Linked DNA regions of Homo sapiens: region 2 is linked to region 1. Evidence: fine-mapped expression QTL. A gene starts in region 1. The other region holds a variant in brackets. All regions are shown on one strand. Distances are from middle to middle. Region 1 holds the start of RAB9A (RAB9A, member RAS oncogene family). Region 2 overlaps TRAPPC2 (trafficking protein particle complex subunit 2).

Region 1 (5,530 bases):
GACAGAGTCTTACTCTGTTGCCCAGGCTGGAGTGCAGTGGCACGCAATCTTGACTCACTGCAACCTCCACCTCCCGGGTTCAAGTGATTCTCCTGCCTCAGTCTCCTGAGTTGCTGGGATTACAGGCGCACGCCACCACACCCAGCTAATTTTTTTGTATTTTTAGTAGAGACGGGGTTTCACCATGTTGGCCAGGCTAGTCTCAAACTCCTGACCTCATTATCCACCGGCCTCGGCCTCCCAAAGTGCTGGGATTACAGGCGTGAGCCACCACGCCCAGCCACTTGTAGCTTTTCATCAGAGATGCCAGAAGTGATTTCTTTCAGTCTCCAGCTTGAGATGGGGTATTAACTCCTAGTACTTATAGTAATAAGTAGGTGTTATTTAAGTAAAAGAATCATTTATGCATAGCAACTTTGGCCTCTTTCTCTCCCGTGAGTGATGCATTGGTGTTTACAGAATATAAAGATGAAAATCTTCGTTAGATGAAGGGAGTCAAACTAGGTTAGTTCTTTAATGTTTTCATCAAGGAACAAGTTTATGGAGCAAGAGAGATAGCAACTGTCTATCCAACTTGCATCAGCTTACCAACCACACACATCCAATAACAAAAATCCCCCAAACTTGCCCTTCAGAGAAAAATCTTTTAACCCACTTTACTCTTGCACTGACATAGAAATGTGGTTAAGAAGTGAATGGTGGAAGAGACCAGAATATACTAACTTTCTTAAATGTCAGTTGGCTAGTATCCAACTGATAGTAATTTTAGAGAAAGTAACTTTCTAAGCTTATTCTTTCTTAAGGTACTATAAGCTACACTCAAATATGTTTGAATGCCTTCTTACATTTTGGAACAGCCTGAGAGTCACTTATGGAACCTTCTTAGAACATTTTTATGAAAGCTGTTGGGTTTGTCAAGGTTTATTTTAACTCAAAATACAATAATTTTATGAGATCACTTGTTAATAGCTAGTTGGCATTAGCAGTTGCACAGATAAACTCCTATTTGATCACTCCTTGACTATGGTTAGGATATACGATTTTCAGGTGGCATTTCTTTAATTACCCTGTGGATTGCTTGTTGCAATTTGACCCAATGTACATGACTTTTTTTTCTATTGGAAAATTAACTCTAGTGTTCATATATAATGTTTTACTGTGTACTTTTAATATGTGTTTTAAAACAAGATAGTGTATATTTCTTCTTCCCCCCAATTTAACAGATTTGTATTTTATAAACGTTTATACATATTTCCTTGGGGAAATGACCTGCAGATAAGAAATAGATTTCTGTTTATGAGAAAACAATTATTTAAGCTTATGTGTCGTTTTCAGAAGCATTCTAAAATTGCCTTTTTAATTTGTGAGGAACTTTCTCAAACATGACCTTTCTAGTGCTGAATGAAAAGTCATTACCTGAAAATGACTCCCCAAAAAGCTGGAGATTATTTAACTTGTTGTGAGCCCCAGCATCATAAAAGTGAGATCTTTGTCTTGGAAAATAAACAGACTAAATCTTTTTTAAAAAGCTTTTATTTTAGGTTTAGGGGTACATGTGTAGGTTTGTCATGTAGGTAAACTGCCTGTTGCAAGGGCTTGGTGTACGGATTATTTAGTTACCCAGGTAATAAGCATAGTACTTGATACCTAGTTTTTTTCTGCTCCTTTTCCTCCTCACACCCTCAACCCTCAAGTGGGCCCTGGTGTCTCTTGTTCCTCTCTATGTGACCATGAGTTCTCATCATTTAGCTTCTACTTATGAGTGAGAACACGCAGTATTTGGTTTTCTGATAAACAAACTAAATCACCGTACAAAACGTATTGAGATGTCCCTATGAGTCCCTCCCGCCTGTAGGGTTCTGTATCATAGGATCCATGCACTCAACTTCATACATAAAGCAAGGACTTAAGGAGAGCTTCTCCAATACCACCTTTTGCACCATCGCTTTCTATTCAGAGATGACAGAGGCAGTATTTTAACAAGATTAAAGGAAAGTTTTAATAGCTTCATTTAAAAAGTTCTTGTTTTTCCACAGTATCACAACTGTTTTCATTTTTCATCCACCTGTTTGTTCTTTGTCCGTTTGACTAGTCGTTTTTATCATTGTAATCACGACATCCTGTGACTGTGCTCATGAGGTCTGTTTATTTCCACTTTACGTAAACTTTTCAAAATGACAGTTATTTCGTACTCGCTGTCGCCCGAACGCAGACGGGAGGACACTTCAGGAGCAATCGACCCGAAGGAAAAGCACGATCCAGGCCCCGCCTGCCTCGGCTCCACCTTCCCCGCGCCCGTCCCCCAGGGTCTCGGCCGCGGGACCCCGCCTTCCAGGCCCCGCCCCGCTTTTTCCCTGGCCCCGCCCCGGCCCGTCGCCATGTTGTTCCCTCCGCGCTGGACGGGAGCAGCTGGAGCGGGAGCCTGGCTGCGCTACCGCGGCTGCCTCCTGCTGTGCAGGTCCCCGACCCTCTCTCTGTCCTCATTGCGCCCAGACGGGCCGGCCCAGAGCTCCCGGGTCGTCTTTCGTGTGGCCGCGAGGTGAGCGGGACTCGGGACTCCTTCGGGACCGGGCGGAGTGCGCGGGTGTCGGGGTCTGAGGGGGCGGCTCGGGCCTCGGGCAGCTGGGGCGGGGTGCGGTGCGCGCGGGGCTAGCGCGGGTCACAAGGCCGCCCCGGGAGAGAGGACGGCTGGTTGTCTCCCTGCCTCCTCTCTGACGCAGGAGGAAAGACGGTCCCCACACCCTTGGGGAGAGGGACTCACAGAAACACACACAAACACTGGAGAAAGGGAGATACAAAAGCCCGGACACCCGTGCACATACACACGGAGAAATACACCCGGTCACCTGGGAACACACGTACACGCCAGCCTTTCCCCCAACCACTCCGGGACACACATCCACAGACCCCAAACCAAATCCTACACCCGAATGATTAATGTAGGGAAAACAAAGGCGCTCCCATGACTTGATTTTGGCGACCTCTGAAGTTCCACCTAGCAGAACGTGTTTGCTCGATGTCTTACGACCACTCGGGTGAGGAATTCGGAAAGTAAAGCCAATCTTAGAGGCTGCAGGCGTTTTGGGGGCATTATCTGATTCAGACGCTGGCTAACGTTTCACAATCGCGTTCCCTTTTTTCTTCCAACTTGGTAAGTAAAAAGGCAAAATGAGAAATTTAAGTGCTGAACTTAATAAATAGTTGGTGGACGTATTGCTTTTTTTTTTTTTTGGTAAGGGATGACACATCTCGTGACTACAGTTCTTTTGAGGAATAACTTTTCTGCTAGTTTCCAAATCGGCACGTGACCACAATCTTTTCATAGGATTTTAGCGTCCTGATAAAAATCAATGGGCAGAATTTGATTGCTTCTTTAAAAATGTGTTTGTCCTTCGGTCTCTGGCACCATTGTAATGGAAAATCCCTACATTGCCTGTACTCTCAGAAGCTGTCCAGTGTAGCAAAACTAGAGATAAAGAAACCTGGAACGATTCAGTTAGGAACTTTTAAGAAGCCAGCCTTTAGTTTTTCCTTTAGAAGATTATGAAGTTATCATGATTGCTTCTCTAGAACTTTAGTAGTTATTTGGATTCCTAAATCTAAGACAATGCTGTGGCAGTCTGGTGCTTTTAGTATTTTTGTGTCTGCTGTGGTAAATTCCTCGTTTATACTACAAAGTTTCTCTTCTGGAGACTTTTGGGATCTGGGCATATTTTTTCGTTTATTATTTGGAATGTTAGAGTAGATAGGCAAACACTAAGTAGAACATCATTGGCTTTGACTCCAAGCCGGGTTTTAGAGATAAGGGAAATAATACCTTAGTGCTATCACTTCTTTTCCAACCTCTCTCATCTCTTTTTGTTTCTATCTCAACCATTTCTTCTGTCTGGACTACAGTACTCTGGAGGCCTAAAGAGAAGATCCTTGAGTTCTCGAAATTATTTTTTTTTAGCCTCCCCTCATTTCTGACCATTTATTGAGCACTCACTCTGCGGCGAATATTCCGTACGTGTAAATCCTGTACGTACATCATTTTATTTAATTTCCATAGCATTTCTTCAGTAAGAGCTCCATGTTACAGTTGAGGAATTTGGGGGGGCATAGGAAGGTTCAGTCTGTTTTCCAAGATGACCCAGGTTGTGATGGGGTGGAGCGGGGATTCAAAGCAGGTCTGGGTAATTTTAGAGTAGTAGTTTTCAACTGGAAGAGAGGACAATTTTGTCCTCGTAGGAGACATTTGGCAATGCCTGGAGGCATCTTTGGTTCACACCTGGGGGCAAGGGAGGTGCTGCTGACATCTAGTGGGTAGAGGCCAGGGATGCTGCTAAACATTCTTTTTTATTTTTATTTTTGTTATTTAATTTTTAAATTTTGCTGCTAAACATTCTATAACCTACAGGACAGCCCCCCACAACAGAGTTGTCTAGCCCAAAATGTCACTAGTGCCACGGTTGAGAAACCCTCCTTTTCAGCAGTCCAAGTAACCCCAGAGCTTACATTTCAACTGCTTTTGTAGTTTTTCAAATGCAATGTCGTTTTCCTATTTGGGATACCTCATCATTTTAACAGTGAGCAGGGGAAAATTCTCTCTACTGAGAAGCATATTCACTTGAAAGATTAAAGAGTGAGTGGCTGGGCACGGTGGCTCACGCCTGTAATCCCAGCACTTTGGGAGGCCGAGGTGGGCGGATCACGAGGTCAGGAGTTTGAAACCAGCCTGGCCAACATGGTGAAACTCCGTTTCTACTAAAAATACAAAAATTAGCCAGGCGTGGTGGCGGATGCCCGTAATCCCAGCTACTCAGGAGGCTGAGGCAGGAGAATCGCTTGAACCTGGGAGGCAGAGGTTGCAGTGAGCCGAGATCACGCCATTGCGCTCCAGCCTGGGCAACAGAATGAGACTCCATCTCAAAAAAAAAAAAAAAAAAAAAAAAAAAAGACCAAATAATTTCTGGTAGCAGAATCTGTTTTTTGTTGTAAGGCAAAAATGACAAAAAGAACTTTAGAGCTATTCAGAGCCATTAAAGTGGACTTAGAAAGTTTAGTTTCTGCATTATTTCAGTTGTCTGAGCAGCCTGTGGGGCACTGATACAAAGGTGCTGATGAGAAGGGCGGTGGGGAGTCCCAACCTTCCTGAAGCTTACAGTCCAATCACAGTCATAAGATTAGGTTCTGACATCATCCTAGAACAGAATTTATTGCCTGGGCTACTCAAGGACAGGGGCCAGGTGTTCATTAAAAAAAAGCAAAACAGGAAAAAAAAGCAAAACAGGCTGAGTGTGGTGGCTCATGCCTGTAATCTCAGCGCTTTGGGAGACCCACACAGGAGGATCACTTGAGCCCAGAAGTTTGAGACCAGCCTGGGCAACATAGTGAGACCCCCGTCTCTACAAAAAATAAATTAAAAAAAAAATTAGCCTAGCTCAGTGTGGTGGTGCATGTCCCAGCTACTCTGGAGGCTGAGGCAGAAGGACGACTTGAGCCCTGGAGTTCAAGGCTGCAGTGAGTCATGATCACACCACTGCATTCC
Region 2 (5,000 bases), 30 kb after region 1:
TTTTCTTGTGGGGAAAAAACAGTTTGCTTTTATACTTTGTTATTGTCATGAGACTTATAAAAGATCTGTTTTCATATTATATTCTATTTTTAAATTTGATATCTACATCTCAACAGAAACAGCCAATTAATAAATGAAATGTGTATATAGAGGATTTATACAAAATCATTTATTGAAAATCTTTTTCATATAAATTTTTTTTCATGTTTCAAGAAGGAAGTTACCGAATTCTGTAACCATCTAAACATGTAAAAAAAGGATACTATGTTAAAAAAAAAAAAAAAAAAAAAAAAAAAAAACAAGATCCTGTGGAGAAGAGGTGCCATTCACACTAGGCCTCAAGGTCTGGGAGGAAACTGAGAGGGCGGGGCTTCCTGCACAGTGGCACCAGGTAAGCAGTAGAGACAGTTGAAATGGCGCTTATAACGGCCTGCCAGAGGCCTCTTTCCAGTGCATGGAGCTTACATGACAGCGGGACCTAGGAGTAGTGGGAGGTGATGCTCAGCCCCAGCTGTGAGCAGTCGCCTGTGTCAATAGCAGGACACAGTCCTGTCAGAGCTGGGAGTGTCCTTTTCCTGGGCTGAAATGGCTTAAGTGAACAGAAGGTGGGACTGTCTGACCATAATGTGAAGACGGAATTCAGAACTTGGAATGCAGTCTTACTCCAATGTAGTTCTTTGAAAATACATTTTTTGGCCAGGCGCGGTGGCTTATGCTTGTAATCCTAGCACTTTGGGAGGCTGAGGCAGGTGGATCACCTGAGGTCAGGAGTTCAAGACCAGCCTGTCCAATATGGTGAAATCCCATCTCTACTAATACAAAAATTGGCCGGCTGTGGTGGTGCATGCCTGTAATCCCAGCTACTCGGGAGGCTGAGGCAGGAGAATTGCTTGAACCTGGGAGGCGGAGGCTGCAGTGAGCCGAGATCACGCCATTGCACTCCAGCCTGGGGGACAAGAGCAAAACTCCGTCTCAAAAAAACCCAAGCCATTTTTCAAAGAATACCTGTTATGGGTTGAAGTGTTTCCTCTCTAAAATTCCTTTGTTGAAGTCCTAAGCAACAGTACCTCAGAATGTGGCCTTATATGGAAAGAGGGTTGTTGCAGATGTGGTTAGCTAAGATGAGGTCACACTGGAGTAGGGTGGGCCCCTAATCCAATGGACTGGTGTATTTAGAAAAAGGGAACATTTAGAGATGCACACAGGGAGAAAAATGCCACATGAAGACTGGAGTTATGCTGCCACAAGCCAAGGAACTCCCAGAAGCTGGGAGAGAGGCCTGGACAGACCCTTGTCTTTGTGCCTTCATAGGGAGCATGGCCCCACTGACACCTTGATTTCAGATGGTGGCCCTCAGAACTGAGACAATAAATTTCTGCTGTCCCAAGCCACTCAGTTTTTCGTACTTTGTTACAACAGCCATAGGAAACTGAGACGGCTTCCTTGCCAAGGAGGCTGTTCTCATGCCTGGGCTGGAGGAGGGCGGCCCGTTGCCGTGGAATCCCATGCATAGTTAAAGCATGTTTTACTTCACTCATGTTGCCATGACAAAGCTAAGTGAATCCTTAGAGAAATGGATGTTTTTGTGTCTGGCTCACAGCAGTGTTTTCTTTTACAATGATGATCAATCCTGAAGAATTAGGAGCAAACTGAAAACGCTTTAAGAAAGTGAGTGGTAGCAGGAGAAAGAACTAAAATCAAGTTATGCAACAAAGTATTTTTATGTGTGCTTTGTCCAACACAAGGGCAGTGGAGTGCACAGAAATTACATACAAGTAGCTGCATCCCACAAAGCAGTACTGGTACAGAGATACCTCAAAAACAAGTTTTAATGAGTAGTGTTCTCATAATATGAGAAAATAATGTCACAACTCCACCTCATAGAGAATCCCGTAAACAAATGCCTATCTTATTTTGGTGGCAAGGCCTGAATAGTTGAAAAATACCATATATTATGCATTACAATTAACTTAAAACATCAATTCCTTAAAGGACATTAAAGCCAATTTTTGGAGGTTGGGAGAAACATAGCAAACTTGTCAGCAATTTATTAGAAACAGAAATTGGAAAGAACTGGGCTCTTCTCGTGTCAAAACTCTACAGGTCTGGGCCAGGTGTAGTGGCTCATGTCTGCAATCCCAGCACTTTGGGAGGCCGAGGGCAGGCAGACCACCTGAGGTCAGGAGTTCGAGACCAGCCTGGGCAACATGGCGAAACCCTGTCTCTACTAAAAATACAAAAATTAGCCTGGCACAGTGGTGCGCACCTATAATCCCAGCTACCTGGGAGGCTAATACAGGAGAATTGCTTGAACCCAGGAGGCAGAAGTTGCAGTGAGCTGAGATCGTGTCACTGCACTCCAGTCTGGGCGACAGAGCAAGACTCTGTCTCAAAAAGAATAAATAAATAAGATCCAAATGGTTTTATTTTAAGCATTTGGGATGGTAATCTTTCTTAAAATATATGGTCCATTTCCTTGTCTCAAAAAAAAAAAATACTCTATGGGTCTGAATGGCAATATGTCCTCGAGCTAAGCTTGGTTTTTGGAACCATTCTTGACAAGCAAGT[T/C]GGGTGGTATCACCTCTGGTGCTGCTTTTGAGCTTCCTGTGTATGGCCAAGGTGTCACTGGGGAGGGGAGCATACAGGCTCAACCCAGCCAGGAAGTGCTGCAGAAGGCCCCTGAAGTGAGGTGCTGCAGACCCAGTGGCAGCAGGAAGACAGGGAAGTAAGGGTCTTTTCTAACCCAGTAGGTCCTGATGAAAAACATGATTCATGAAAACAGCCTGGACTTTCATGGTATTTCAAGGCGGCAATCCACTACAGGTGAACTATGTCTTTATGTGCTTAAGCAACAGCAATTCATGGTGGGTGACATAGTGAACTGAGTATGATGGGAATGCCAGAGCGTCATGCTAGTCTGTGCTGAACTAAAGGATGAATAAACATCTCCAAGGACATACCCTGGCTGGCTTCTATCAGTCTGTGGGCTCCTGAGCAAGCCTCATTTAATTGTGGTGGATTTCAGTTACCTTATCTGTCCAGATCTTCCAGTTCTAAAATCATATTATACCATATCATTACAATAGCATAAAAATTCTTACGTACTTTGGATTCTGCCTTCCCAGCTGGCAAAAACTCCATTTCAAAAACTGGATTATCATGGTGGCCAACAATTACAAAGTAGAAGCTCCCAGACATGGTCTTCAATATATGGCTCCTAATTAAGTGAAAAATAGTACATATTTTTAGTAGTCAATCTTCAAATTAAAAAATGACTAATGGGAAGTGTAGAATTCTTTTTTAAATTTAAACCTGACATTGTAGAGGAAGATGCTACTAAGCTTGGCAGTTTCCAGTATACTAGCGAAGATACGTAGCTTCTGGAATAAACAAATTATGTATCTATGATATGAATCTGTGAATCTAATGTATTTTCTTAAGTAAACTGGAAGACCTCTAACATGAAATCACAAAGACAACATTCTCATGATCTGAAAATATGGCTCATTCAGCTCAAGGGGCCCTAAGTGTCTGGTAGAGTAAGCTGGGCTTCATTTGGACTGGACCAGTTAGTAGCAGCACGGACACCTAGAAGGATTAACAGAAGGTGGTGGTAAGTCAAGGACAATACAGAGTAGTGGGAAGACCAAGGAAGTAATTACCTTGCCTTAGAAATTTCCAGGAGGCATCCGTCGGGGGAAGCTAAAACCAACTCTACCTCATGTCACTTACCTAGAAAGGACAGACACTGTATCACTGATTCGCAGACTGCGTGTGCTGTATTTGTCTTCTTTCTACTTGAAGTATGTGTGCTATAAATGTAAGTCTTTGCAAATCTAAGAGCCTATGATATGCCTCTTTATATACCAATTTATAAGAAAGGAAGAGTTTTGTATTCTAGAAAAGATGGAAGAAATAATCCATAAAGGAAGACATTCTGAGGCACTGAAAGATCTTGGAACTAAGTTTAACATGTTGGGCCCGGTGCAGTGGCTCACGCCTGTAATCCCAGCACTTTGGAGGGCTGAGATGGGCAGATTGCTTCAGCCCAGGACTTCGAGACCAGCCTGGGCAACATGGTGAAACTCCATCTCTACATGAAATACAAAAAGTAGCCAGGCATGGTGGTATGTGCCTGTAGTCCCAGCTACTCAGGAGGCTGACGCAGGAGGATCACCTGAGCCCAGGGAGGTCAGGGCTGCAGTGAACCAAGATCGCACCACTGCACTCCAGTCTAAGTGACAAAATGAGACCCTGTCTCAAAAAAAAAAAAAAAACAGATTGGCAGAAGAGATGAAACTACGAGAAACTGGGGGGAAAAATATAAGTGATTCCATGGCTTTTAGCACAGATAATTGAAATCTAGATGAATGATGGATGGGTGGGGGCATGGATGGATTTACCCCAAGGTAACCCCACGGTGTGTATTTTTAACACAAGGACTTTGGAGTCAAAGTTAGGTTCAGGTCTAGCTCTGCTACTTACTGGCAGTGTGACCACAGGCAGTCCTTAACTTCCTAATGTCCGTTTTCTCATCTGTTAAATAGTGCTAACACTGTAGCACCTTATGGTGCACTTATGAGGATCACACAATCTAATGCATGTAAAGTACCCAGTACAGTGTCTGACCCACAGTACATGCTCAATTAATGTTAGTGGAATAACATGGGAGACCGTATGCACACTGGGATGTGGTGACTAGTAACTTCTCAACACGGAGTGGAAATCAAGTAAACCGGGAGTTACAGTCAGTCTCCTAGAACATACATCTGAGGTGTGTTAGAAGCCAAGACTTAGCAAGCCTCATTGGGCCTTCTGCTGATTCACACAGAACACACAATGAAATCAGAAGAAATCTGATATGTACTTGCTAATGAATGACACATTTTATAAAGGAAATCAAGGCACAGCTGGCACTTTTAACTCTAGAATTGGAAGGCCATGACTATGGAAGAAAAGGCAGATCAGAACTCCTGGCATGATGACGTAAGATTTAAAAT

Evidence for each region. PIP is the estimated chance that this variant, and not a neighbour inherited with it, causes the effect.
Region 2: its variant is the best candidate, but not a certain one, in a credible set for the expression of RAB9A in blood mononuclear cells (TOPMed, PIP 0.63).

Annotation. Positions count from the first base shown.
Region 1 is chrX:13,686,750-13,692,279 of GRCh38, forward strand. It overlaps RAB9A (RAB9A, member RAS oncogene family), which reads left to right and starts at 2,379. Exons shown (of 3, transcript NM_004251.5): 1 at 2,379-2,539. RefSeq lists an enhancer at 2,079-2,128 and silencers at 2,279-2,518, 2,529-2,688, 5,313-5,509.
Region 2 is chrX:13,716,766-13,721,765 of GRCh38, forward strand. TRAPPC2 (trafficking protein particle complex subunit 2) reads right to left here. Exons shown (of 6, transcript NM_001011658.4): 3 at 3,106-3,217. The coding sequence starts at 3,198. It also overlaps a transcript of OFD1 not described here. Among named protein-coding and RNA genes, the nearest start is that of TRAPPC2, 15 kb to the right of the region's middle. The variant T/C (reference allele first, on the strand shown) is at 2,569.